Homo sapiens: one gene and its partners. The protein of the gene in region 1 interacts with the protein of each later gene in a pairwise test. Each region holds a gene or a part of one and is shown in the gene's direction. Other genes may lie near its edges.

What was found.
Region 2: the proteins of PATZ1 (region 1) and PRDM6 interact in binary tests that used the Homo sapiens proteins (3 or more experiments, as listed by UniProt).
Region 3: the proteins of PATZ1 (region 1) and LURAP1L interact in binary tests that used the Homo sapiens proteins (3 or more experiments, as listed by UniProt).
Region 4: the proteins of PATZ1 (region 1) and PPP1R16B interact in binary tests that used the Homo sapiens proteins (3 or more experiments, as listed by UniProt).

The regions. Positions count from the first base shown.
Region 1 is NC_000022.11:31,343,333-31,350,872, reverse strand, and holds the start of PATZ1 (POZ-, AT hook-, and zinc finger-containing protein 1 isoform long C), read left to right. Parts: upstream 1-4,526; 5' UTR 4,527-5,270; coding exon 5,271-6,541; intron 6,542-7,540. UniProt on the Homo sapiens protein: Transcriptional regulator that plays a role in many biological processes such as embryogenesis, senescence, T-cell development or neurogenesis. Interacts with the TP53 protein to control genes that are important in proliferation and in the DNA-damage response.
Region 2 is NC_000005.10:123,190,229-123,194,787, forward strand, and holds the end of PRDM6 (putative histone-lysine N-methyltransferase PRDM6), read left to right. Parts: 3' UTR 1-4,038; downstream 4,039-4,559. UniProt on the Homo sapiens protein: Putative histone methyltransferase that acts as a transcriptional repressor of smooth muscle gene expression.
Region 3 is NC_000009.12:12,778,010-12,785,042, forward strand, and holds part of LURAP1L (leucine rich adaptor protein 1-like), read left to right. Parts: intron 1-7,033.
Region 4 is NC_000020.11:38,808,666-38,815,698, forward strand, and holds part of PPP1R16B (protein phosphatase 1 regulatory inhibitor subunit 16B isoform 1 precursor), read left to right. Parts: intron 1-7,033. UniProt on the Homo sapiens protein: Regulator of protein phosphatase 1 (PP1) that acts as a positive regulator of pulmonary endothelial cell (EC) barrier function. Involved in the regulation of the PI3K/AKT signaling pathway, angiogenesis and endothelial cell proliferation.

The DNA.
Region 1 (7,540 bases):
TCTAGACTACGGGTTCCTTGAGGGCAGGATCTGTGGTCTGGCTTGTTCACTGCTGTATCCCTAGCATCTTACAAAACAAAAGCCTGGTGCTTAGTAGGTGATCAATAAATACAAATCTAGTTAATGAATACATGACCTTGACAGCTCTGCTTAGCCTAGGAGACAAGGATATTCTCAGTTCGCTGTCCAGCTGGTCTGCTGCCAAAACTGAGGTGCATGGTTTCCATGGCAACAGAAGAGGGCCCGACAGGCCAGCAGCAGGAGGCAGATGCAGGGATTGTGAGCTCTGCATGTTTTCAAGGTGTGGCCTAGAAATCCGGAACATGGCGGTGGGTTCTTTCAATAGATGTTGAGAGAAAAAAAGCTTCATAAATACGGCTAACTCAGTTGTTCACCAGGCAGGTTTCTAAGTCAATTAATGAAAACTCGGGCAAGTAGTCGAGGTCTTTAAAGGTGACATGGGAGGCTCTTAGTGTTTGAAAGTCTAGGAACTCAGGAAAGTTTGGTTTTAGTCTGGATCCTGACTAAGGGTGTGACCCTGGGCAAGTTACTTAACCTCTCTGGGCCTCAGCATGCTCATTCATAAAATGAGAGGTTTGACCAGCACTAAAATTATTTATAAAAACATGTGTGGTAGGAATGCAAAATGGTACAGTCACTGTGGAAGAGTTTGGTGGTTCCTCAGTAAGTTATACATAGAACCATCATATGACCCAGCAATTCCACTCCTAGGTATACACCCAAGAGAACTGAAGATAGGCACTCAAATACATACTTGTGCACAAATGTTCATAGTTGCACTATCCATAATAACCAAAAGGCCACCAATGGATGAATGGATAAAGGTAGTATATCCATACAATGGTGTATCATTCAGCCAGTCATAAAAAGGAACAAAGTATTTATACATGCTACAACATGAATGAACCTTGAAAACATTACGTTAAGTGAAACAAGCCAGACTCAAAAGGTCACATACAGTATTGTATAATTCCAACTAAATAAAATATCCAGGCTGGGCATGGTGGCTTACGTCTGTAATCCCAGCACCTTGGGAGGCTGAGGTGGACAAATCACCTGAGGTCAGGAGTTCGAGACCAGTCTGGCCAACATGGCGAAACCCCATCTCTACTAAAAATACAACAATTAGCCGGGCACGGTGGCATGCGCCTGTAATCCCAGCTACTTGGAAGACTGAGGCAAGAGAACCGCTTGAACCCAGGAGGTAGAGATTGCAGTGAGCCAAGATCGCGCCACTGCACTCCAGCCTGGGTGACAGAGACTTCGTCTCAAAAAATAAATAAATAAAAAAAATATCCAGAATAGGTAAATCCATAGAGACAGAATGCAGATTGGTGGTTGCCAGGGGATGAAGGGAGAAGGGAATGGAAAGTGACTTCTTAACGTGTACGGAGTTTTCTTTTGGGGTGATAAAAATGTTTTGCAACTGGACAGACGTGCTGGTTGCACAACATTGTGAATGTACTAGGTGCTAGTGAATGATACATTTTAAAATTGTTAATTTTATGTCAGTTGAATGTTACCTAAAAAAAAAAAAAAAAGACATGTTCTGCAAGCATGCCTTAAGTTACATAATGGATTCCTAGGAGCCTGAGAGATGGGCAAGACTGAGAGTAATGGATGAAGTAGAGAGGTTACTCCCACCCCCACAATCACACTGCCAAGGCGACATTTGGAAAAAAGCTCCCAGGTGGGATCAGAACGGCGTCTGGACTGTCTCTGGCCACTTCCCCAAGGTGGGATCCTGGACCACTCTGGCTCCTTGAACCTCAGGCTTCCTATCTGCAAAACAGGGCTGATGCACGTTCCCTGTTTTCCTCAGAGCACCACCTTCTGAACCCACCTTCACCGGGTGAATCCGCTGGAATGGGGCCAGTCATGGCACCTTGTTTTCTAAGCATAGCAGACAGAGAGTCAGTTCCTGGTTCAAGTGGAGCCATGGACGGGTGACAGGTTTCAGAAGCCACTGGTGAGAAAGGGGCAGTTAACCAGTTTGAATCCTGGCTCCATCACTATCTGTGTGGCCTTGGGCAGGTCACTCACCTTCCCCAGTTCCAATGGTTGAATAGGAATATCTGTACCTACTATGGAGAAACGATGTGTGTATACACTGGACACTCAGAGCAAACCTCTTTTTCTTTTCTTTCTTCTTCTTTTTTTTTTTTTTGAAACAGTTTTGCTCTTGTTGCCCAGGCTAGAGTGCAATGGCGCGATCTCGGCTCACCGCAACTCCGCCTCCCGGGTTCAAGTGATTCTCCTGCCTCAGCCTCCCCAGTAGCTCGGATTATAGGCATGTGCCACCACGCCCGGCTAATTTTGTATTTTTTTTTTTTTTGAGACGGAGTTTCGCTCTTGTTGCCCAGGCTGTAGTGCAATGGCACGATCTCGGCTCACGGCAACCTCCGCCTCCCAGGTTCAAGCGATTCTCCTGCCTCAGCCTCTCTAGTAGCTGAGATTACAGGCATGTGCCACCACGCCCGGCTAATTTTGTATTTTTAGTAGAGACGGGGTTTCTCCATGTTGGTCAGGCTGGTCTAGAACTCCCGACCTCAGGTGATCCGCCTGCCTCGACCTCCCAAAGTGCTGGGATTACAGGCATGAGCCACTGCGCCCGGCCTAGTTTTGTATTTTTAGTAGAGATGGGGTTTCTCCGTGTTGGTCAGACTGGTCTCGAACTCCCGACCTCAGGTGATCCGCCCGCCTCAGCCTCCCAAAGTGCTGGGATAACAGGCGTGAGCCACCGCGCCCGGCCCCTTTCTCTTTCTCTGTGGATGTTCCCAGCAGCTCTCTCAAAAATAAAACGTGCCAGTTCCCAAAATCCGCCCAAGAAAGCTGTGGCTCAGAGAGGGAGGCACTAGCCTAAGGTGACAGTGAGTCTGGGCTTAGAACACAGATCTCCTGGCTTCGTGTCCAGGGAACTTTCTTCATGCCTCTAATTCATTCTCTCCAACAGGAGTTTGGCATGTACTATGCCCTAGAGCGGAGGTGTGCAGGACAGGTGCTGCTGTCCCTGTGCACAGGTTAAGAAACAGTTTAACTGAATCTCAGGGAGGCCAAGTGACTAAGCACCAGGACACGAAACCAGAAGGCAGAGGTCTCGATTTTGAACTCGGATCATCCGCCAGGGCAACGCCCGGAAGCCTCAGGGCGCGCGTGGCTGGGCGCGAGCTCGGCGCGCAGCGGTGGGAATCCCGAGCGGAGTTGGAAGCCGGGCCCGTTCATTTGCATGCTAATACCCAGAATGCTTTTCCCCCGCACACCGCTTCTCTTAATGGAAGCGCTCAGTTTGGAACCGTGGAAAGTTTGGAACACATACTTCGCTGCCTCTTTGCAACTGTGGGAACTTCCCGCCCGCACACGCGGCGCCTGCAGCCTGGGGCTCCGCGCCAGGCGGCCCAAAGGCAGCCGCCAGCGCTTCCTGGGAAGACAAACCTTGGTGTACAACTCTAGCGTGGTAGCATCCCCGGGCGGGCCGGGGACAAAGCGCCGAGGCCTGGCGGCAGGGCCCATTACCAGAGCACCCGGCGTCTCACAGGGCTGCGGGCGCTGGGGATGCTCCGGGCTTGGAGAGGCCTGAGGGTGTCCCCGACTCCTCCGGCACCCCCACTTCCCTGAGGATTGCTGGGGCTTCCGGGGGTCCCTGCCCCGTCCATCGCCCTCATATTGTCGCCTCCCGGAGCTGGTGACTTCACGCTCCCCGGGGACAAAGCTCGGCGTGCTGTGGTTTGGGGGAGAAGCTGGACGCTGGCTTCATCTCTCCAGCTCTTCCGGGCGCGCAGCCCATCAGATCGATCAATGTACCGGGTGCAGAAGCAGCTCCGGAGGTTCGGCCTGTCTCCGGCCAGGACCCCGGGCCCTCTCTGGTGTTTGAAGCAGGGAGGCGGTCGCAGGCGACTTCTGGGAATTTCACGCATGAAAGCGGGGCTCCGAAGGGTGGACGACGCCCGCTCGACCTGCGAGTGCGCTTCGCAGGCTGGGGGGCCCGGATCCGCACCCCTCAGTTCCTGCCCCCCCACCCTGCTAGCCGCCACTCTCAGCGGGCAGGGGAGGGGCAGTGGGAGCTGGTTTGCTGGCTCGGCGCTTCGTTTGCATTGGTCCGGGGGGGCTGAGACTGCAGCCCCCGGCCCCGCGGGCGGGGTGGGGAGGCGGGGGCCGGACGGGGGCTCAGGCTGCTCTAGCATTGGCGGATCTGGGGAATGGGGAGGGGGGGCAGGAAGCGGGGGGAGCGGACTGCGGGGGGGGGGTGTATAAATAGGGAAGGGGGGACGTGCATCCTCGTCTTGGTGAGGGGGGGGCGCTCGGCACAAAGAAAGTGTAAAGTTTGCAGCGCCAGGCGGCCCGGGCTAGGCATCCGGGCGCGCACGTGCAAGGCCGGGGACGCCGGGGCCCCCACTCTGAGCTCGCCGTTTCTTTTTTTTCTGCAAGCGAGAGGGGGGGTGTTGTTGGTATCGCCCCCTCCTTCTCCTCCCCCCAGGGGTGAAAGTGCAAGAGGAAGTGCAGCCGCTGCCATCTTTCCTCCGCTCCGAACACACGGAGCCCGGGGCCGCACAGCCGCCGCTCCGCCGCCGCCTTCTCCCGGCCTGAGGAAGGGCCTACTCTGCCGCCGCCGCCGCCCGCCCGCTCCAGCCGCCGCCGCCGCCGCCACCGCCCTCCAGGCTCCGGGACCCGGCCCGCGCCACCGCCCCCGTGCGCGCCCCGCCGCCGCCGCCTTCGCCTTCGCCTTTTGTTTCCTCCGCTCCGGCGCCCCCGCCCCGGCTCGCGCTTTGCAGGGGACGCAGCGCGCGCCCCCAGCGGGCCCGGGAAAAGCCGCGGCGCGCGCGCGCGCCTGCGCGGCGGACCCCTCCTTCTCCTCCCCGCGTGCGCGTGCCCTTCTTGGCTGCGCGCCGGCGCCGCCTGGCGGGCGGGAGGGGAGGTGGCAGGCGCGTTTGCAGGAGGGGCGCACCTCTTCGCTCGCGCACCCCCCCGGAAGGTAGACCGGGAAGGGGAGGCGGGCGGGCGGAGAGGAGAGAGTGGCGCGCAGTCCAGCGAGGGCGGGGGTTGGCTATGTGGGGGGTGGTGCACCCCGCAGTCTAGACAGTCTGATCCGGGCTGGGGGCGTGTACACTCGGCGCACCTGCGAGACTACAGAGCCTCGGGCCGGCACGTGTGGGGAGTGTGGACACGTCTGCTGCGCCCCGCTTCTCGCTGCTGAGGGGAAGGGAGGGGGCGGGCAGGTGCAGCGGCCGGGCTAGTGGGAGGGGGCGGCGGCCATGGAGCGGGTGAACGACGCTTCGTGCGGCCCGTCTGGCTGCTACACATACCAGGTGAGCAGACACAGCACGGAGATGCTGCACAACCTGAACCAGCAGCGCAAAAACGGCGGGCGCTTCTGCGACGTGCTCTTGCGGGTAGGCGACGAGAGCTTCCCAGCGCACCGCGCCGTGCTGGCCGCCTGCAGCGAGTACTTTGAGTCGGTGTTCAGCGCCCAGTTGGGCGACGGCGGAGCTGCGGACGGGGGTCCGGCTGATGTAGGGGGCGCGACGGCAGCACCAGGCGGCGGGGCCGGGGGCAGCCGGGAGCTGGAGATGCACACTATCAGCTCCAAGGTATTTGGGGACATTCTGGACTTCGCCTACACTTCCCGCATCGTGGTGCGCTTGGAGAGCTTTCCCGAACTCATGACGGCCGCCAAGTTCCTGCTGATGAGGTCGGTTATCGAGATCTGCCAGGAAGTCATCAAACAGTCCAACGTACAGATCCTGGTACCCCCTGCCCGCGCCGATATAATGCTCTTTCGCCCCCCTGGGACCTCGGACTTGGGCTTCCCTTTGGACATGACCAACGGGGCAGCCTTGGCAGCCAACAGCAATGGCATCGCCGGCAGCATGCAGCCAGAGGAGGAGGCAGCTCGGGCGGCTGGTGCAGCCATTGCAGGCCAAGCCTCTTTGCCTGTGTTACCTGGGGTGGACCGCTTGCCCATGGTGGCTGGACCCCTATCCCCCCAACTGCTGACTTCCCCATTCCCCAGTGTGGCATCCAGTGCCCCTCCCCTGACTGGCAAGCGAGGCCGGGGCCGCCCAAGGAAGGCCAACCTGCTGGACTCAATGTTTGGGTCCCCAGGGGGCCTGAGGGAGGCAGGCATCCTTCCATGCGGTCTATGTGGTAAGGTGTTCACTGATGCCAACCGGCTCCGGCAGCACGAGGCCCAGCACGGTGTCACCAGCCTCCAGCTGGGCTACATCGACCTTCCTCCTCCGAGGCTGGGTGAGAATGGGCTACCCATCTCTGAAGACCCCGACGGCCCCCGAAAGAGGAGCCGGACCAGGAAGCAGGTGGCTTGTGAGATCTGCGGCAAGATCTTCCGTGATGTGTATCATCTTAACCGGCACAAGCTGTCCCACTCTGGGGAGAAGCCCTACTCCTGCCCTGTGTGTGGGTTGCGGTTCAAGAGAAAAGACCGCATGTCCTACCATGTGCGGTCCCATGATGGGTCCGTGGGCAAGCCTTACATCTGCCAGAGCTGTGGGAAAGGCTTCTCCAGGTGAGGAAAGGCCCCCTCTTCCTCCCCTGCCACACGTTATCTTAGTCCTGAAAAGGCTCCTGCCAAGATCTGGGGGTGTGGGATTTGTGGGGGTCATTTGACCTTATAGAACCATGCCAGGTTTGGGTAGAGTGTTTTTAAGGGCCCTTATTTTGAGATGGTATGCCTGAGACCTGCTTTCCATTCCCTCAGGGAAGTTTTTTTGACGCTAAGTGTGCCCTACTGTCTCTCCTCCTGGGGCCGGATTCCTCAGGCCAGAGCCACCGGACCTCACCATTCTTCCCCCAGGGCTCCCTTTGTGTTTCCGGCACCAGGCGTGGGGCCCCCTCTGGGGGCGGGAGACTGGGCTCCTCCAGCGACTTCCCCGCTTGAATGGCTGCCGAGGGAGGTACTGGAACAAGTGCATCTGGGACTCCCTACACTCTTGAGGCACCAGATTCCCCAACACAGAACACTGGCCATCCTGATCAGTAGACTCCAGCTGTGCCTCTCACACCACCCTGGGATCATGGGACACAGAGCTGGTCACCCAGAGCTGCTGCTTAACACCAAAAGCTTTGATCTGCTCTGACCTGGTAGCTCTAGAGCCTAATGGGACCCACGAGCCCCTTTATGTTTTCAGGACAGAAAGGAATGGGGACAGGATCTCTATGTAGGTTCACTTTCTAGTTAGCCTGTTGGGGAACTGAGGACTTGTCTGGGAGCAGAGGGTGATTTTGTTTTTCTCCTAAAAGGCCGGTTTTAACCTGGATTGTAGGACCTTGTGTGTGTGAACACAGGGATGGAGAACTCCCTCAGAGGGCCCCGACCAGGAACCAGTCTTACCGGTCAGGCAGCCCCTGCCCACCTGCTCAGGCGGGCATCTGGCTTACCAGCCCAGCTGGGGACTTAAGGCTCCACTGCTGGCCTCTGGGGACTGAATTCCATCCGGGTGGCATTCATTGGCTGCCCGTGGCGGGAGAGGCTGGGGGAGGGGATTGCTGAGTTTCTAAGGGGCTT
Region 2 (4,559 bases), on another chromosome or scaffold:
ATGTTCCTTTATTTAGCAGAGTCTAAGACGAAAGGTAATGCCAGGGAAAAGTCAGGGTGCAATAGGATGAGAGATGGAGCTGCAGACCTTTGCATTTCTAGAAAAATCTCAATATCCCAAGGCAAAGTTGTATTTTCCCCAGGATATGTGCATACATTTTTCATAGATAAGCTTTTCATTTTTGTTTTGTTTTTATCTTTAAAAATGACTTTTTTGGAGGAGATATACTTCTAAAAAGTTATTGTATGGCTAATTAAAGCTATGAAACTTAATCTCATATAATTTATATAATTTGATTCAGTTGGTACATTTTTTATTGTGTTCATTTAAATGTAGCCTTCTTGGGAAACTATGTATAACAGGAAAAGATCATGACATCATTGTGTCCTCATAGGGCTCATAATTGAATTTTACCTTGTAAAAATTTCATTCTGGTTCAGGTATGCAAAGATTTATACGAACATTTAGCAGTTCATCAATTTTTAAATCAGATGTTCATTGTTTCATTCATTTATTCAACAAGTATTTATTGAACTCTTATTTTATATAAAGACCCCATTTTATGTGTTCACCATAAGCAGCATTATTTAAGTGACTATTCATGATAAAATAATATTCTCCTCCTAAGTGGCTGCTAGTAAAATGGGTATTTTAGTCCTTTAGACCATTGTCTCAGTGAAGTTAAAGATTTTGTTCCAACTGGGAAAATCTGAGAGAGGTAAATTCATCTGGGGACCAGAAAATAGCATATTGCAAAACAAGTTAAGATGCACAACTTGGTTGTCTTTGCTTAACTCACTGGGCTATTGGTTGTTAGCAGCAGTATCAAGAGACCAGGATTAGGGCCTGGGTCTTGGGTTTTTATGACCCCCCCTTTCAATGATAAGGCAACAAGTTGGGTACAAGGCTGGAGTTGCTCAGGGAAGGAGATCTGCGACCCTGAATGGGTCAGAGTTGCCTCATTAGTGGTAAGCGTTGGCAGTGTAGTCCCTTTCCCCGGTGTGCAGAAGTAACATTATTTGTTTTGCACTAATTTAAAATTTAAAATGCAAGTATCTATTGAGTTGTTTAAAATGGGAATCATGGCACGTCTCACAAAGAGGGCATTTCCAGAACAGCAGGGTTAACGGGTCCCTCTGAGTGTACCCAGCAGCCTGCGTTTAGGAGCAAATTCATTGCTCTCATATTAAGGCTATGCATGCCTACAGAAACCAGGCCAGGAATAAGAAATAAATAATCACATTTCCTGAAATGTTTATCTGTTTCTTCCTTGACATGAATTTAATTTTTATTTCCCAGAGTCTTTACTAGATCCTGACATCAGATTTTAAAAGATACTGAGATATATGCTTCTTTAAATGATAACTGTAAGTTCCAGAAATGTTATTCACTTGTCAGGATCCTTTTAAGGTGAAGAGCTTTGGAAAATTTTATGCGCTAACTAGATACCTGGGTGATCATCAACCCAAAGTTTAAAGTTCTCCCCTCACTAGCATTTATCTGAACTACCACAAAACAACAACGCAGGTTACTAGGAAGGCACCTATTTCAGCCCTCCCCAAGATTGCATTCTACAAACCCAGAGATCAGCTGTCAGGTACAACTGGCCAGACAGAGCCAAACTGAAAAGAATATTGCTTTATCTGTGGAAACCTTGCCACAGATGTTTAACCTGTAGTCCATGGCTGTGTTTGACATTTAAAATATTTATTTAGTTTCTTCCTTTAAATAATAAATGCCAGATGTTTCATCAGATCAATATGTAAAACGATAACAAAAAATATGTCGGAAACAGGTCAAAGTCATGAAACATTTGAATTGTCTTTCCTATAGACTGAATATGCCACCACTGCACTTAGAAAACCTATGGAGGAAATTTTAATGGAAAAATAAGGACATTCTGCGCTTATTCCCACAGAGGTTGATGGGAATGATGATGATTATAAATTATATTGTGCAATTACTGCCATGCCTTGTTCTAATGCTTAATGTGGATTATCTCTTTTAATCCTTAGTAACTCTATAACAAAGATACTATCATTATCCCCTTCTCATATATGCTTAACAGTTTTAGCTTTGTAGCTTCTTTAGTTTTTTTCCTCCTTCAAAGCCATAAACAGGCAATTGTTAAAAGAGGAAAATACTTCTCTATGTAAAGCTTTTTTTTGAGAACAAGAGCTTTTAAAAATTAATAAACACAAGTATAATTTATTTATAAAATGTGTTTGTGGAAACAATACTGAAGTGCTATTAAAACACGTATCATTATAGATGCTGATTTTGTCATGCCCAAATCTCATTGCTGGACAGAATTTCAACTATTCCATTGCTGTCAGGCATTGTTTTTGTTTTTCTAAGCAGGAATCTAAAATTCCACATTGAAAGAAAAAAAAATAACCCTCTCAAGTGTGATATACATTAGGACAAATGGCAACAGGCAGGAAGGGCAGGTTGTGTTGGAGGGTGGCCAGAAGAGAATAAGGTTCGAACACTATCGACAGGTAAAAACACATCCTCAACGGGGCTAAGTGAAATCTCGTTTTCTTTCTTTGTTCTGACTGAATGCTAAGTGAGTTACTTTCCAGGCATCAATGGAGTCATTACGCAGTTGTGTGCATTAAGAATATGGGCTTATGTTGTTAGCCTGTTGGTTTAAAGCAGTGCAGCAGAAAGACTGGAGTCATTATAGGTTTGGTTTGTCAAAGGCACAGATAGTGTAGTTACATGCATGAGGTACTCAAGGAACCAGTTCAAGTTCTGGGGCACAATCTAGATGAAACTGTGAGGTTTGTTCAAAAAGTAAGTGTACAAAATTTCATCATGAACTGGCTTTATTACAACTCTTTACCGTGGTTTATTGAAACCACAATGTATACTACTTTCCTCCAGATTCTGATTCTAATGGGCACATTTGTTTGTTGAAATGATAAATATATTTTCCTTGTCAAACATGGTGGGTCCTGGTTGATATCTCCTGTTTCCTGCCTTGAAAAACATCCTTGTTGGTGCCTTTCTCCCACTTTGGTACATCACTCCCAACTGAAAACAGTCTAGATATAAACTTTAACAAGCTGGAGATCTATTTCTACAGCACAACTCTTTCATGTTTAAAAGCAATTATGCCGTATCAGGTGATTGCCACATGTTGGGGAAAGCAGCCATCTTAGAGCAAAAGTCTGCCAACCCACAGTCCCTGTTGATCCACATGTGGGCATTGTCTAATGTTAACAAAATCAGCACTTGTAGACTTACTTTCTCTGAACAATCTAGTACACTTCTCTAGTTTCTCCCAACCTGGAGAAAATGTATAGCAAAAGCCAGAGGCAAAATTATTCTCCTTAGCAGTTCTAAGTATTTCATGAAAAAGCCTTCCCCCAGTTTAAATGCAGAGGCTAAGGTGATGACTAACGAATTAAGGAAAACTTTGGCTCAGATCAGCAAAATTATTTTGGAAACTTAATGTCCCAAGTTAATTATTTTTTTTATATCAAGGGGAAGACATCCAGTTCTGTAGGATGCTAATAGAAGTGTGATATTTAGATGCTATTAGGACATTGTATACATTTCTTTAATGTGGTTATTTTAAGTTTAGGACTGTAAATGTTCCCTACTGGAATAGAAATATGTCTCTCTCCAACTTTCCACCAAATAAAATGGTTAGAGTGAATGCCCAGTTTCACATCTGCCTTTTGGAGTTTGGAAAGCTTAAACAAGTCAGTTAAGAGAATGAGAAGAATCTCACTGTGGGTGATAAGGAGTGTGTAGTTTGCTGTAAGGGCCACTGATATGACAAGAATGATTATCCCACAGTAAGAATGGGTAAAACTTAATAAAGTTTTCTAACTTTATTAAACTCACATTATTTAATGAAAAAATAACTGCAAAGGACCAATGAGATCATGCATGCTGCTGTATTCTTGTGATGGAATCTACCAGGATTAAGTTGTATTTAAATGAAAAAACAGGTACACATTTAGAGATCATTGACCAAGAAATGTAAATATATTTGATTAATAAAACGTTTTTATGATGACTCGATCTTCCCTTGGATTCTGTCTTTTCCAGTCCCACAGTCATTTTTCAAGCACCATCTGATTCTAGTGTGCAGCTTAGGTAGTAGGCAGTCAACAAACTCTTGTTGGGGAAGTATAAGCTAGAAAATACACCTAGCAAGCAGGAAGGTTGTTAAAATTCAGCCCTGAGGTTTATTCGGATGCATTTGAGATTACTGTTTTCCTTATTCATGTGCTCACATGCTCATTTGCCCAACCAAGTCAGGTGCACAGCTTCTTAAGGAAACTGTGCGCAGAGACCCAGCCACAAATCTGTGGCAGGCTGGACTTGATATTTGACCTCTAACCCCATAAGCTTTGGAGCACAGCAGAAAGCACTTGCCCGGAGAGTGGCCTGGGGCTATGACTCTTCTGAATGTATGTGATTGGGGGCTCTCAGAAAGAAAGCCAAAGTCAGCTGTTTGTCTCTTGTTCTGTTGGAAAATAAAATTTCACTTAGAAAAAATATGTGAGCATGTAGGAATAGCAAGAAGGACACTGATGCTG
Region 3 (7,033 bases), on another chromosome or scaffold:
ACTTTTTTGAGACACAATTTCTGAAACTGGGATTTATGTTGAGAGTCTCTAAGGTCCCTGATAATTTGTCGCATTTGTTGTTGTTTTTTGGAGAATATTTCATCACTACTCAAATGATGGTCCTCTGGTCTGGTGGAAGCTTCGTAAGCTTTGAAGCCAGATAAACCAGGGTTTCAGACAAGTCTAGAGCAAGTCAGGATATCAATAAGACCCAATAGGATGTAGGGCTGCCTGTCTAGGGAGACATTTAGCTTATCTTCCCCGGCAAAAAGGCTTGTCCCGCTCTCTGTGGCCCTCATTCTAGTCATGGCTTTTTCACTCACTAGTGTGTGGCACTGAACAAGTTATAGAACCACTTTGAGACTCAGCTTTCTTGTTAACATAGGAATAAGAGCATCTCCATTAAGGCATTTTAAGAATTCAGTGAAATAATATAAGAAAAACAACTATTACATAGATATTCAAAAACAGTAAGGATGCTGGCAGTAATGAGCATTACATCAATGACATGGGTTCCGTTGATCTTACAAAAGCAGCCCTACATGGATAATGTGGATTTGGGACTGATGAAGGCCTAGATATCTTCTCCACCAGACTGACTCTATCATGTCATCTCCCATGTCATCAGATACTCTCTGTAGAGACGATGTTTCCAAACAAACTAACGCACAAAATATGTGTAGGTTTCCCTAGCTTCAGTTCAACTGGAAATCTTGATTTTTATTTTAAATTTAACTTTTATTAAACACATGCTATGTGCTAAGCATGCTGCTGATTGAAGTAGCATGTATGAAAGAATTGTAGAGCCTAATGTCAGGTAGTCCAGGAAATCTGAGGAACTTAAACCAATACAGTAGCCCACCTTATCCATGGGAGATATGTTCCAAGACCTCCAATGGATGCTTGAAACTGTGGATAGTACCAAAGCCTATATAGACTGTTTAGTCCTATGCGTACGTACCTATTGTAAAGTTTAATTTATAAATCAGTCACAGTAAGAGATTAACAATAATAACTAACAATAAAATAAAACAGTGTATTGCTATGTGAATGTCTCTCTCTCTCTTTCTCTCTCATTCTCTCTCTCTCAAAATACTATAATATTTTCAGACTGCAGTTGACTGTAGGTAACTAAAAGCAAAGCCATAGATAAGGGTGTACTACTACATTTGGTTACTTTGGTGAGACTTTACTATGTGTAAGACACGGTGCTAGTTAAACATTTTATATGTATTATCCCGTTGAAATCTTATAATCTTTTTTTTTTTTTTTTTTTTTTTTTTGAGACGGAGTCTCGCCCTATCGCCCAGGCTGGAATGCAGTGGAGCGATCTCGGCTCACTGCAAGCTCCGCCTCCCAGGTTCAGGCCATTCTCCTGCCTCAGCCTCCCAAGTAGCTGGGACTACAGGCACCTGCAACCACGCCCGGCTAATTTTTTGTATTTTTAGTAGAGACAGGGTTTCACCGTGTTAGCTAGGATGGTCTCTATCTCCTGACCTCGTGATCCGCCACGGCCTCTCAAAGTGCTGGGATTACAGGCGTGAGCCACCGTGTACGGCCGAAACTTTATAATCTTTTAACTAAATGTAATTGTCACCATAATCTTATAGACAAAGCATTGAGGTTTATTGAGCTAATGCTGAAGGTAGTAAGTGGAGGAGCCAGGATGAGGTCAGAATCTGAGATTTTAACCATGCCTATGCTGTCACTTCTTACACTTTAGAATACCTCCATGCTCATGTGGACACCTAGGAACAAATGAATATTTCTATTCTTCTCCCAGAATTTCAAAACATTAAACATGTTAAACTGTATTTTTGTTTACCATAAGCCTTCCCAGGAGGAACAAGCACTAAACACAGTCTCTGGCTTAGGATTTGGATGAACATATTCAAAAGCCATCTGCTTCCCAGCAATCATAATCATACCCTTTCCTTTTGGCCACTATCACCAAGATCTCCAGTAGTACTTCCTCTCAGTCCACAAGAACTGCCATGAGCAGTTAAAGGTTCTCCTGACACGACCAGTTCAAGTTTTAGAGCTCAATAATATTCATGATGTAGGAGTATCAAGAGCTTTTCATTGGTAGCATTTTAGTTCCCCAAGAGATTCTGTTCAGGATAAAACTTAGACCTTAGGTAACTCCCTAGAAAGAACTAGAAACTTGGAATCCTGACACCATCTTGTGTTCATTTAAGCAGTACTTTCAAATTGCTGTTTTTCCAACAGGAACTCAGTTATCCTCTTCTTCTCAAATGATATCAGTTGCACAGCACTGTGTGGTGACTTGCCAGGTGTGTGGTTGAAAACACATCCATCTGAATTGTGCTCATGTAAACTGCACTCATAGAATTCACAAGGAAAAAAAACAAGGTTATATTTCAAAAGTCTCGATCTTAGACCTCTAAATTAAACCTGAATTATTCATTTTCTTAAAAAGGGGCTAAACACTGTGGTGGATGTTGAGATATAACTAGGACAGTATTATTTCATTTTACAGATAAGGAAACTATGGCTTACAGAGATTAATTAACTATGATTCCCAGCCTGTTATTCAAACAAGAACCACTGTGAGCCTGGCTATCTGCTTGATCCAAAGTAATCCCAAACTATACTATATACTATATGCACTACGAAATGTGCCCATTTACTGTGAACGAACATTTTTATAGTAATTTCATCACATATCTACCAATGGATCTTTTGGCATTCCTTTAAAAATATTGTTTCTTTTTTTTAAAAAAAATAAATGTTTCTCATTGTAAAACTTCCAATAATACAGTAATAAATTGTATAAATAAGAAGAAAAGTTCACTTAATCTTACTCCTCCCCATTTTACTCTATACTCCAGAGGAAATACTTCTGACATTTTGTTTGTTTGTTTAATCCATGAGCTCAGCCATTTATCATATCTTTGTGTTACAAACATTCCAAATATACTCTTTTAGTTATTATTATTATTATTAGTTTTATTATTTGAGATGGAGTTTCGCTCTTGTTGCCCAGGCTGGAGTGCAATGGCTCAATCTCAGCTCACCGCAACCTCTGCCTCCTAGGTTCAAGCGATTCTCCTGCCTCAGCCTCCCGAGTAGCTGGGATTACAGGCATGTGCCACTACGCCCGACTAATTTTGTATTTTTAGTAGAGATGGGGTTTCTCCACGTTGGTCAGGCTGGTCTGGAACTCCTGACCTCAGGTGATCTGCCTGCCTCGGCCTCCTAAAGTGCTGGGATTACAGGTGTGAGCCACTGTGCCCGGCCCCTTTTAGTTATTTTTAAATGTACAATAAATTATTGTTGACTGTAGTCACCCTGTTGTACTACCAAACGTTAGCTCTTATTACTTCTTTCTAACTATATTAATGTATCCATTAACCATTCCACTTCCCCCCAGCTCGCTACCCCTTCCCAGCCTCTGGTAACCATCATTCTACTTCCTAGCTCCATGAGTTCAACTGTTTTCATTTTTAGCTCCCACGAATAAGTGAGACCACGCCAAGTTTGTCTTTCTGTGCCTGACTTATTTCACTTGTCACGAAATCCTCCACTTCCATCCATGTTGTTGCAAATGACAGATTCTAATTCTTTTCTTCTGGCTGATTAGTACTCTATTGTGCGTACGTACAACATTTTCTTTATCCGTTTGTCTCTTGATGGACACAGGTTGCTTGTAAATCTTAGCTATTGTGAATAGTGCTGCAATAGACACAGGAGTGAAGATATCTATTTGATATATTGATTTCCTTTCTCCTGAGTATATACCTAGTAGTGGGATTGCTGGATTATATATTAGTTCTAATTTTATTTTTTTAAGGAATCTCGAAACTGTTCTCCATAGTGGCTATGCTAATGTACATTCCCACCAACAGTGTACAAGGGTTCCCTTTTGTCCATATCCTCACCGGCATTAATTATTGTTTGTTGTTTGGATAAAAGCCATTATAACTGGGGTGAGATAATATTTCATTGTAGTTTTGATTTGCATTTCTCTGGTGATCAATTATGTTGAGCACTTTTGAATATACCTGATTGTCATTTGGATGTCTTTTGAGAAATGTCTATTCAGATCTTTTGTCTATTTTTTAATCAGATTATTAGACATTTTTCCTACTGAGTTGTTTGAGCTACTTATGTATTCTGCCAGTTAATTCCTTGTCAGATGGGTAGTTTGCAAATATTTTCTCCCATTTCATGGGTTGTCTCTCCACTTTGTTGGTTGTTTCCTTTGCTGTGCAGAAGTTTTTAACTTGATGTGATCCCATTTTTCCATTTTTGCTTCGGTTGCCTATGCTTATGGGATATTCCTCAAGAAGTCCTTGTCCAGAGCAATGTTATAGAGAGTTTCCCCAATGTCTTCTTTTGGTACTTTTATGTTTTAGATGTAAGTCTTTGATTAGATTTTGTATATGGCAAGAGATAGGGGTCTAGTTTCATTCTTCTGCATATGGATATGTAGTTTTGGCAGTACCATTTATTGAAGAGACTATCTTTTCTCCAGTGTATGTTCTTGGCATCTTTGTGAAAAATGAGTTCACTGTAGGTATGTGAATTTGTTTGTCAGTTCTCCATTTTGTTCCATTGCTCAGTGTGTCTGTTTTTATGCCAGTATCATGCTGTTTTGGTTACTATAACTCTGTAGTATAATTTGAAGTCAGTTTTGTTCTTTTTGCTCTGGATGACTTTGGCTATTCAGGTTCTTTTCTGATCCCATATAAATTTTAGGATCTTTTTTCTATTTCTGTGAGGAATGTTACTGGTATTTTGATAAGGATTACATTGAATCTGTAGATTGCTTTGAGTAGTATGAACATTTAAAAAATGTTGATCTTCCAATCCATGAACATGGAATATCTTTTCATCTTTTTGTGTCTTATTCAATTTCTTGCATCGGTATTTTATAGTATTCATTGTAGAGATCTTTTACTTCTTTAGTTAAATCCTAGGTATTTAATTTTATTTGCAGTTATTTTAAATGGGATTACTTCTTGATTGCTTTTTCAGATTGTTTGCCGTTGGCATATAGAAATGCTACTGATTTTTATGTTAATTTTGTATCCTACAACTTTACTCAACTTATCAGTTCTAATGATTTCTTGGTGGAGTCTTCAGGTTTTTCCATATGTAAGATTATATCATTTGCAAATAAGAATAATTTGACTTTTTTTCTTCCCAATTTGGATGCCCTTTATTTCTTTTTCTTGTCTGATTGCTCTATCTAGGACTTCCAGTACTATGCTGATAAACAGTGATGAAGTGGGCATCCTCCTTATTTCCAGACCTTAGAGGAAAGCCTTTCAGTTTTCCCTCTTTCAGTATGATACCAGCTGTAGGTCTGTTTATATGGCTTTTATTGTGCAGTGGTAGATTCTTTCTATACCCAGTTTTTTGAGTTTTTATCATAAAGAGATGCCAAATTTTATCAAATGCTTTTCCAGTATCAACTGAAATTATCATATGGTTTATTCCTTCATTCTATTGATATGATGTATCACATTGGTGGATTTGCATATGTTGAACAGTCCTTGCATCCCTGGGATAAATTCCACTTGGTCATGATGAATGATTATCTTAATGTGTTGTTGAATTAGGTTCACTATTATTTTGTTTTGGATTTTTGCATCAATGTTTATCAGTGATATTGGCCTATACTTTCTCTTTTTTTGATACGTCTTTGCTTGATTTTGATATCAGGGTAATACTGGCCTAATAGACTGAGTTTAGAAGTATTCTCTCCTCTGTTTTTTGGAATAGTTTGGGTAGGATTGTTCTTCTTTAAATGTTTGGTAAAATTCAGCAATGAAGCTATGAGGTCCTGGGCTTTTTTTTTTTTTTTAATAATTTTGCATGCTTCATTCTTTTTTATTCTTTTATTTTGTCTCCCTCACTGTATATTTTCAATTAGCATGTCTTCAAGCTCACTAATTCTTTCTTCTCCTTGATCAGTTCTGTTGAGAGACTCGAATGCATTCTTCAGTATGTCAATTCAATTGTTTAGCTCCAGAATTTCAGCTTGATTTTTAAAAATTATTTCAATCTAATTTACATTTCATTTTACATTTTCATTATGGATAGGATTCTGAATTCTTTCTCTCTGTTATCTTGATTTGTTTAGCTTCCCAAACCAGCTATTTTGAGTTATCTGTCTGAGAGGTCACATATCTCTGTCACTCTGGGATTGGTTACTGGTGCCCTTATTTAGTTCATTTGGTGAGGTCATGTTTTCCTAAATGATCTTGATGCTTTTGAGTGTTCATCAATGTCTGGGTGTTGACAAGTGAGGTATTTATTGTAGTCTTCATAGTCTGGGCTTGCTTGTACCTGCCCTTCTTGGGAAGGCTTTAAAGAAGTATTTAAAGAAAATTGAGTGTTCAGATCTAAGTATTTGCCTATTGCAGCCATATCTGCCCAAGCCCAATAATAGTATGACTCTTGCAGACTAACAGAGGTAGCACTTTGGTGGTGTGGGGTACTATATGACAGAATTCCCTGGATTACCAAATAGAGACTCTTGTTCTCTTACTTTACCCCAAACAAACAAGTTTCTCTCTGTGCTGAGCTTCCTAGAATTGGAGGAGGGGTGACACGAGCACCTCTGTGGCCACCACTACTGCAACTGTGCTGAGTCAGACCTAAAGCCAACACAGTACTTGATGTCACCCGAGGCCTGTGGCAACTATTGCCTGGTCACCACTGATGTTTATTTAAGGCCCAAGGGCTCTTTAGTCAGCAGGTGGTGAATCATTCTAAACTTGTATTTTTCCCTTCAAGGTGGTGAGTTCCCTTCTGGCCCAGGGTGGGTGTAGAAATGCTGTCTGGGAGGGAGGGTCTGGAGTCGGGAACTTTAGGAATCTAGAATCTACTTGGTGCTTTATTTTACTTGGTAAAGCTACTTGGTAGCTGAGCTGATACCCAAATTCTGAGTCAAAGTCTTTTTTACTCTCCTCTCTTATTTCCTCAAGCAGAAGGAGTTTCTCCTCATGGCCACCACTGCCCTAGGCCCATGGCAAGTACTGCCTGGCTACCACTGATGTTT
Region 4 (7,033 bases), on another chromosome or scaffold:
TAAAATAGGTATCACAGTAATGCCTACTTTGTGGGATTGTAAGGATTCCATGAGACCATTAACACATAGAAAGTGCTCAGTACTAGGGTGGAGCATAGTGGCTCACACCTGTAATCCCAGCAGTTTGGGAGGCCAAGGCGGGAGGATCACTAGACGTCAGGAGTTCGAGACCAGCTGGCCAACATGGTGAAACCCCATCTCTACTAAAAATACAAAAATTAGTGCAGCATGGTGGCGCATGCCTGTAGTCCTAGCTACTTGGGAGGCTGAGGCACGAGAATTGCTTGAACCCGGGAGCAGGAGGTTGCAATGAGCCGAGATCACATGACTGCACTCCAGCCTGGGTGACAGAGCGAGACTCCATCTCAAAAAGAAAAAGAAAAAAAAAAGTGCTCAGTACAGCATCTGGTGTGGGTAGGAATGCAGGAAATGATCATTGTCACCATCACTACTATTTCCTCCTTTGTGTTGGACTCTCAAAGGTCCCACCTCCTCCAGTGCTAGGGTGGGGAGTGAGTGCGACCCTGTCTCTTCTGCCTGTAGCCATCAGGACGGGGAAAGCCTCTCAGCCTGTCTCCTGGGGCGGGGGTGGGGGCTCACTCCTGGGAACTTGAGTCTAGCACCAGCTTTTCCCCGGGGAGTCTGTGAGCAGCCACTTAGCCTTTCTCAGCTGACTGCCATTTTCCAGGATTCATTGATTCATTCAAAAGACGTTTATTCCATCCCAGCCCTTGTGCTTAGCAAGGGATTTCAAGATGAATGAGGCAGCTCTCAGAGTTCTCCCTCTATGGGGAGAGGCAGGCCTGGAGACAGATAATGAGGACACTGTGGGATAAAGGCTGCAACAGCAAGAAGAGAGAGTGACGAGCAGATCCACATGGCTCAGGCTGACCCAGGTCTGAATCTTGAAGCTGCCACCTTGTAGCTGGGTGAGGATGGACAGAGGCCTTACCTCTCAAGCAGATAAGCCACCTCCCTAAGATGATGATGTGAGGAGAGAAGTGAGACACTGTGGATAAAAAACCTAGCTTGGACCAGGTGCGGTGGCTCATGCCTGTAATCCCAGCAATTTGGGAGGCAGAGGTGGGCAGACTGATTGACTCCAGGAGTTCGAGACTAGCCTGGGCAATATGGCAAAACCCCGTCTCTACAAAAAATACAAAAAATTAGCCAGGCATGGTGGTGTGCACCTGTAGTCCCAGCTACTTGGAAGGCTGAGGTGGGAGAATCACCTGAACGGGGGAAGTGGAGGCTCCTGTGAGCCATGATTGCGTGCACCTCTGCACTCTAGCCTGGGCAACAGAGTAAGACCTTGTTTCGAAAAAAAAAAAAAAAAAAAAACAAAACCAAAAAACTTAAAAACCCAGCTTGGGCTTTCTAGATATTAATAAGTGCTCACAGATGTTCGTTGCTATTATTAGTCTATTATTGCCAATAACAGGTGGGCAAAAGTTGCTGTGGGAGCATGTTGAGCCCTTCAGTGACAGTTTTCCAGGTGGTAGGGCAGCCCTAGCCGGGAGAACAGCATGTGCAGAGGCACCGAGGCTTAAAAGTGCTGGATGTTTTTGGAGAGCAGTGGGAGGAGTTGCTGATGGAGCAGAGTCATGAGAAAGTTTGATGGAGGCAGAAGCAAGGCCAGGGAGGTAGCAGAGGCTATCCTGCCGGGAGCCCCGAAGGATTAAACACTCACTGACCCGAGGCAGTCCCTCTGCACCTTCCTTGGAGGGTGGTTCTCTAGTGAGGGTTGTCCAGGAAACTTCAGGATTAACTTTTGCATGGGAGGAAGGGCTGGTCTCTGCTCAACTATCCATACATTCACCATCCTTCCCTCTTCATTCCACCCAGGAAGCACGAAGAAGAAGAGGTCCACTCCCTCTTCCTGAGATGCTTTTCCCACCTCTGCACTTGTTTCTCTCTTCCTGGGACTCAGTTTCTCACCTGAGAGAAGAGGGTAGAAGTGGAGGAAGCGTCATGACCTGACTCACTGATTGATCATGATATAGCACCAAGTGCATTTCTGGATGCTGGTCACTGTCAAAGGTCTTTACTTGCATCGCCATTGAATTCTCATACCAATCCGTTGAAATGAATGCACTTATCCCCCACTGCACAGAGGGAGAAACCGAGGCACAGAGGGTGAGGCAATTTGCTAAAGGGCATGCAGCTTGTAAGTGACAGGAACTCACGTCTTGGGGGGCATCTCAAAGTTGCCATGTGCTATCCTTCACCACCTTCTTCACACACTTTGTAAATCTAAGGCTGACTGCAGAATATCTGGCCTCTTTTGCTTTGTGTACCTTTGGGCGCTGGGCAGTAGGCATTTTGGAGATGGGTCACAGTGGGGTGTGCTCTGGGTATGTAACCTGACTTTGGGGAAATTCCTGGGTGCAGACGCTTTGTGGGGAGGTGTTCTTGGATGTCTCAGAATCTAGAATGGCATTCCTTCGCCCACAGATGTGCCTTGATGCAGGCAATGTGCAGCTTGATTGATGTGGCAAGATGGTGGCTGAGCCCCACGGTGGCCCCAGGAAGGAATGAATGAATCTTTTAGGATGGCTGATCAGAGCATCACATGACCACAGACCCTCCCTGTTTCAGAGGACATCCAAACACAGGCTTACATTTCCTTTTACATGGGGGCAAAGTTTGGGGCCAGGGTTCAAATGCTGGCTCTGCCTCCACTGGCTTTGGGGCCTAGGGAAATTTTTTCACTTCCTTGAACCTTAATTTCTTCATCTGGAAATAAAGATGAAGAAATAAGTTGCTAATTTTAGCATCTTCAATAAGTTGCTAAATAGTAACTCACAAACACAATTCTGAATTGTCATAAGGATTTGTAATCATATGGAAAATGCTTGGCTTCCAAGCTGTAGATAATATTGATGTAATATCCAGCAGATTTTTCTCTGCAGTACTTATAATTGTGATTATATGGTTATATGTGAGCATTACTCTTTTAGTCTTCTGTTTCATCCACTAGACCTGTGGTTCTCAACTTGGGGCAGTTTGACCCTCCCCAGGGGATATTTGGCAATGTCTAAAGACGTTTTTGGTTGTTACAACTTTTCGGGGGATAGTGGGGGAGAGGAGCTACTGACATCCAGTGAGTAGACACCAGGGGTGCTGCTAAATATCCTGTGGTGCACAGGAGAGCACCCCCACAACAGAAAATGATCTGATCCCAAATATCAATAGTGCTGAGGTTAAGAAAGACTACACTGGACGATGAGCCCCATAAGGTCCGTGACTGTGTCCAATTCATTCAGCTGTGTGTCTCCAGTTGGCCAGCGTGATCAGCATGATGTCCAGCACACAGGAGACAATCAATATGCATTAAAGGAATGAATGAGGACTTGGAAGGCCTTATGTCCCCTGGAGTCCCAGGGGTTTAGCTTGTGGAACATTTTGAATAGGCAGAAGAGATTTAGATGAACTTGAATGATGAACAGCCAATTAGTAACTCAGGCCAAAGACATTCAGACCGAGCTCTCTGTTTTCCTTCCCAAGCAGGTGCTTGGGGGCCCAGATTATCTGAATTGTTCCTGCCATCACCACTGCATTTTACCCATGTAGATACAGGACCCGTCTTTATCTGGAAAGTAGGCTGGGGCAGAGGAGCATAGGTGCTGTCAGCTGGGCCCTTGGGATTTGCCAAGCTGGGGCACAGCTGCTTGTCAGCTTCCTGTTTTGTCCCTTTCTAGTGGAATGAAGGAAACCCACTGAATGGCTATTTTCCACTGACATTTACAGCAATGTGATAGGCCTTGGATTAATGAGGTCAAACTGCAGTGTGAAATCTGCCTGATAACTTGAAGCTTGGCCAACGGGAAGACATCGCTTGTTTTCTTTGGACCGTTTGATGTCCCTGGATGGCTTTAGGCAGGAAAGCAGGGGTCTCAATTCTGTACGAAAGAGGAGGGTGTTTTACTTCCTGGAATTATAGAGGCCAGAGGTGTCTCTTTTTCAATTTATTGGGAAGGTTTATTTTAATATGGACTTAGAAATAAATAACTTATTAAAGTGAAGGTTCACCTGGAGCCTTAGGCTGGCTGCTAAGTGTGAGTCTGGGCTGTTGAAGGGACTGTGCTGTTCTTCTGGGTCTCTGTAGGAGTTTGAAGGAGAAGACTGGCCCCAAAGGGTGTTTGAACAGGTTAGATGTGCCCATTGGTTAGAACTTACTTGGATAGGGAGAAGGGATCTAGGGCGTATCCACAAACTTGCATATGGATCCCCTTTGGTTTCCTGCTAAAATGCAGAAACTGACTCAGTAGGGCTGGGTATGGAGTTTTCTGCATTTCTACCAAGCTCCCAGGGGGTGTCAAGCTGCTAGTCTGTGAACTGCACTTTGAGAAGCAAGGGTATGGGAGACCCCAAGTCTACAGGTGAGGGTTCCCTGGTGCAAACCGCTTAAGCATGAAAGCAAATGCAGCCTGTTGTGCCTGTTCACACAGCCATCTGCTGTGCTGGCTGGCTTGCGGAGTCACAGATGTTCACTGTGCCCCTTCTCTGTGTGCCCAGGCCTGGGACCAGACTTGACAAAGAGGATGCTTGGTCTCAAGGAGCAACTCAGACAGCCAGAATGTCAGCTAGAATGATGAGCTTTGAGTACTTTCAAAAACATGTATCCAGGTACATGGTGTTCCTGGGTCATCTGGTCACCTGGGACTTGTGAGAAGTACAGATGCCTGGGCCTTAGCCCAGTCCACCTGTGTTAGAATCAGCCAATATAGGGCCCTGAAAGTCTGTATTTTCTCAAAGTGTGCCAGGTGATTCTGATTCACAGCCAGACTGATGGAAGGGAAGGTGGGAGGAAGAACTGCCAGTACATGCAGGTTAATTGCTCAGCAGGACCTATGTAAGGTTGTAGAGTTGTGTATTGCTGATGGGCACAGTGGCACTCGGCTAAAGGAGAGGCTGAAATCTAGCCTGTGGATCCACTTGCCAAGCTCTGCACCCTGCAGGGTTGCATCTGCTTAGAGGGACGGGCACCTTTTTCTTAATATTCATCATAATCACTTGGTACTTATTATGAGCCAGGTGCTGTCTACTTAACTCCTTTAGTCCTCCTAACAACTCTAAGGGGTGACATCATCATCATCATCATTATTATTATTATTATTATTATTATTATTATTATTATTATTATTTTGAGACACAGTCTCACTCTGTCGTCCAGGCTGGAGGGCAGTGGTGCCATCTCGGCTCACGGCAACTTCTGCTTCCCGGGTTCAAGTGATTCTCCTGCCTCAGCCTCCTGAGTAGCTGAGATTACAGGCACCCGCCACCACTCCTGGCTACATTTTGTATTTTTAGTAGAGAAGGGGTTTCACCATGTTGGCCAGGCTGGTCTCAAACTCCTGACCTCAAGTGATCCACCCGGCTCGGCCTCCCAGGGTGTTGGGATTACAGGCATGAGCCACTGTGTCTGGCCAGGTGTGACTTTAGTGCTACTCTGATTTTACTGTTCAGGAAAGTGAAGCAGAGAGGTTCAATGTCTTACTCAAGGTCACACAGCCAGTAAATGGAAAAGTCAGGATTCCATTTCAGGACATCCGGCTTCAAAGTCCTTGTACTGAATCATTACACTCTCTGGCCCTTTCTTTGCATAAAAATGCTGTCTTCTCTTTATGGGGCTATCCCTACTCTGAGGGAGTACCTTTTTTCTTGTCCTTCCTTCAGAGGGGGGAAGGCTAGCAATGACCTTGGCTGGCTTTAGAGTCAGGTACGGGTTTGATTCCTACCTCCAGCACCTACTGCAACCTTGAGTAAGTTACATGTGTGTATTTGCTGAGCCACAATTTCCCCATATGTAAAACAGGAATAATAATAGTATAATATAAATTGATATGATTAGGCATTTAGCCTCTGCTTGGCAGGTAGGAGGTACCTGATACATGCCAACTATTCTTATGGCATTATTATCATTAGAGTTAGTCCCTAGGAGTATTCAGGAGCTAGGGAAATAGGTGAGCAAAGCACTGTGTCATTATGTCCCCAGGAGCTGGGTCATTCATTTTGTTCACTAGGTTACTTATGGCCATTACTTACCTGGGCATCCCTAGTCTCCTCCGCTTCTTGGCCCCAGAGTCTGTGCCAGCCTGGAGAGTTCTCAGAATGTCTTAGTTCAGACTCTTAGTCAGAACTGCCTTTGTTTCCTCACATCCAAGAACAAGTAAAACATACAAATTTTGACACTTATTCTCTTTAGGTCTCTTGACTCTTTTTGGTGACTTTCTCTGTCTCCTGTTTTCTTTCTGGAACTATTGCTGTCGTTGGCTATCCCATGGACTGGATAGAGAGGAAATGTTGCCTTATAAACATTGCCAATTACCTTATAAAAATATAGGGAAGATTTTCACCAAAATGTCATTCATTTTTTTTCTTTTATATATAAACTTAAGCTTTTGTTTTCCTATGGCTGTATGTCATGCTTTTTAATTACACAAAGTATATAAGTGTATCATAAGTAAACTTTCCCCATCTTCTCAGCCACTCATCCCTTTTCCCCGGAATAAATCTATAAATGTTTTATGTATTTTTCCATAAATTTCATATGCATATATAAACCCATATTCATTTACATGTTTATCCATTTTTCTTTTTAACACAACTATACAAAACTCTCCTGAGATCTTCTTTTTCAGCTAATTTATCTGAGCACATGCCAACACACAGATATACCTGGATCTTTAAGGCTATCTGATAGTCCAGTGATAAAAATGTACCATCATTTGTTTTCTAGTTTCTTGATGATGGCTAAGATAGTTTCCAGTTTTTTTCCTCCTACAAATGTATAATGTTGCAACATCCTTGTTTGAACAGTGTATATATCTTTGTATACTCTACATACTGATGATTTTATTCATAAGGAAAATTCCTGGCAGTTTCAACTGTGATAGACATTGCTAACCTGTTCTCCAAAGAGGCTGAACCAATTTCTGTTTCCTCAACAGTGTATGACTGTTTCCCCCATCTATTCTCCAGCACTGAGGATTAAGTAACTTTCATTTTTGTCAGTCTGACAGATATAAAG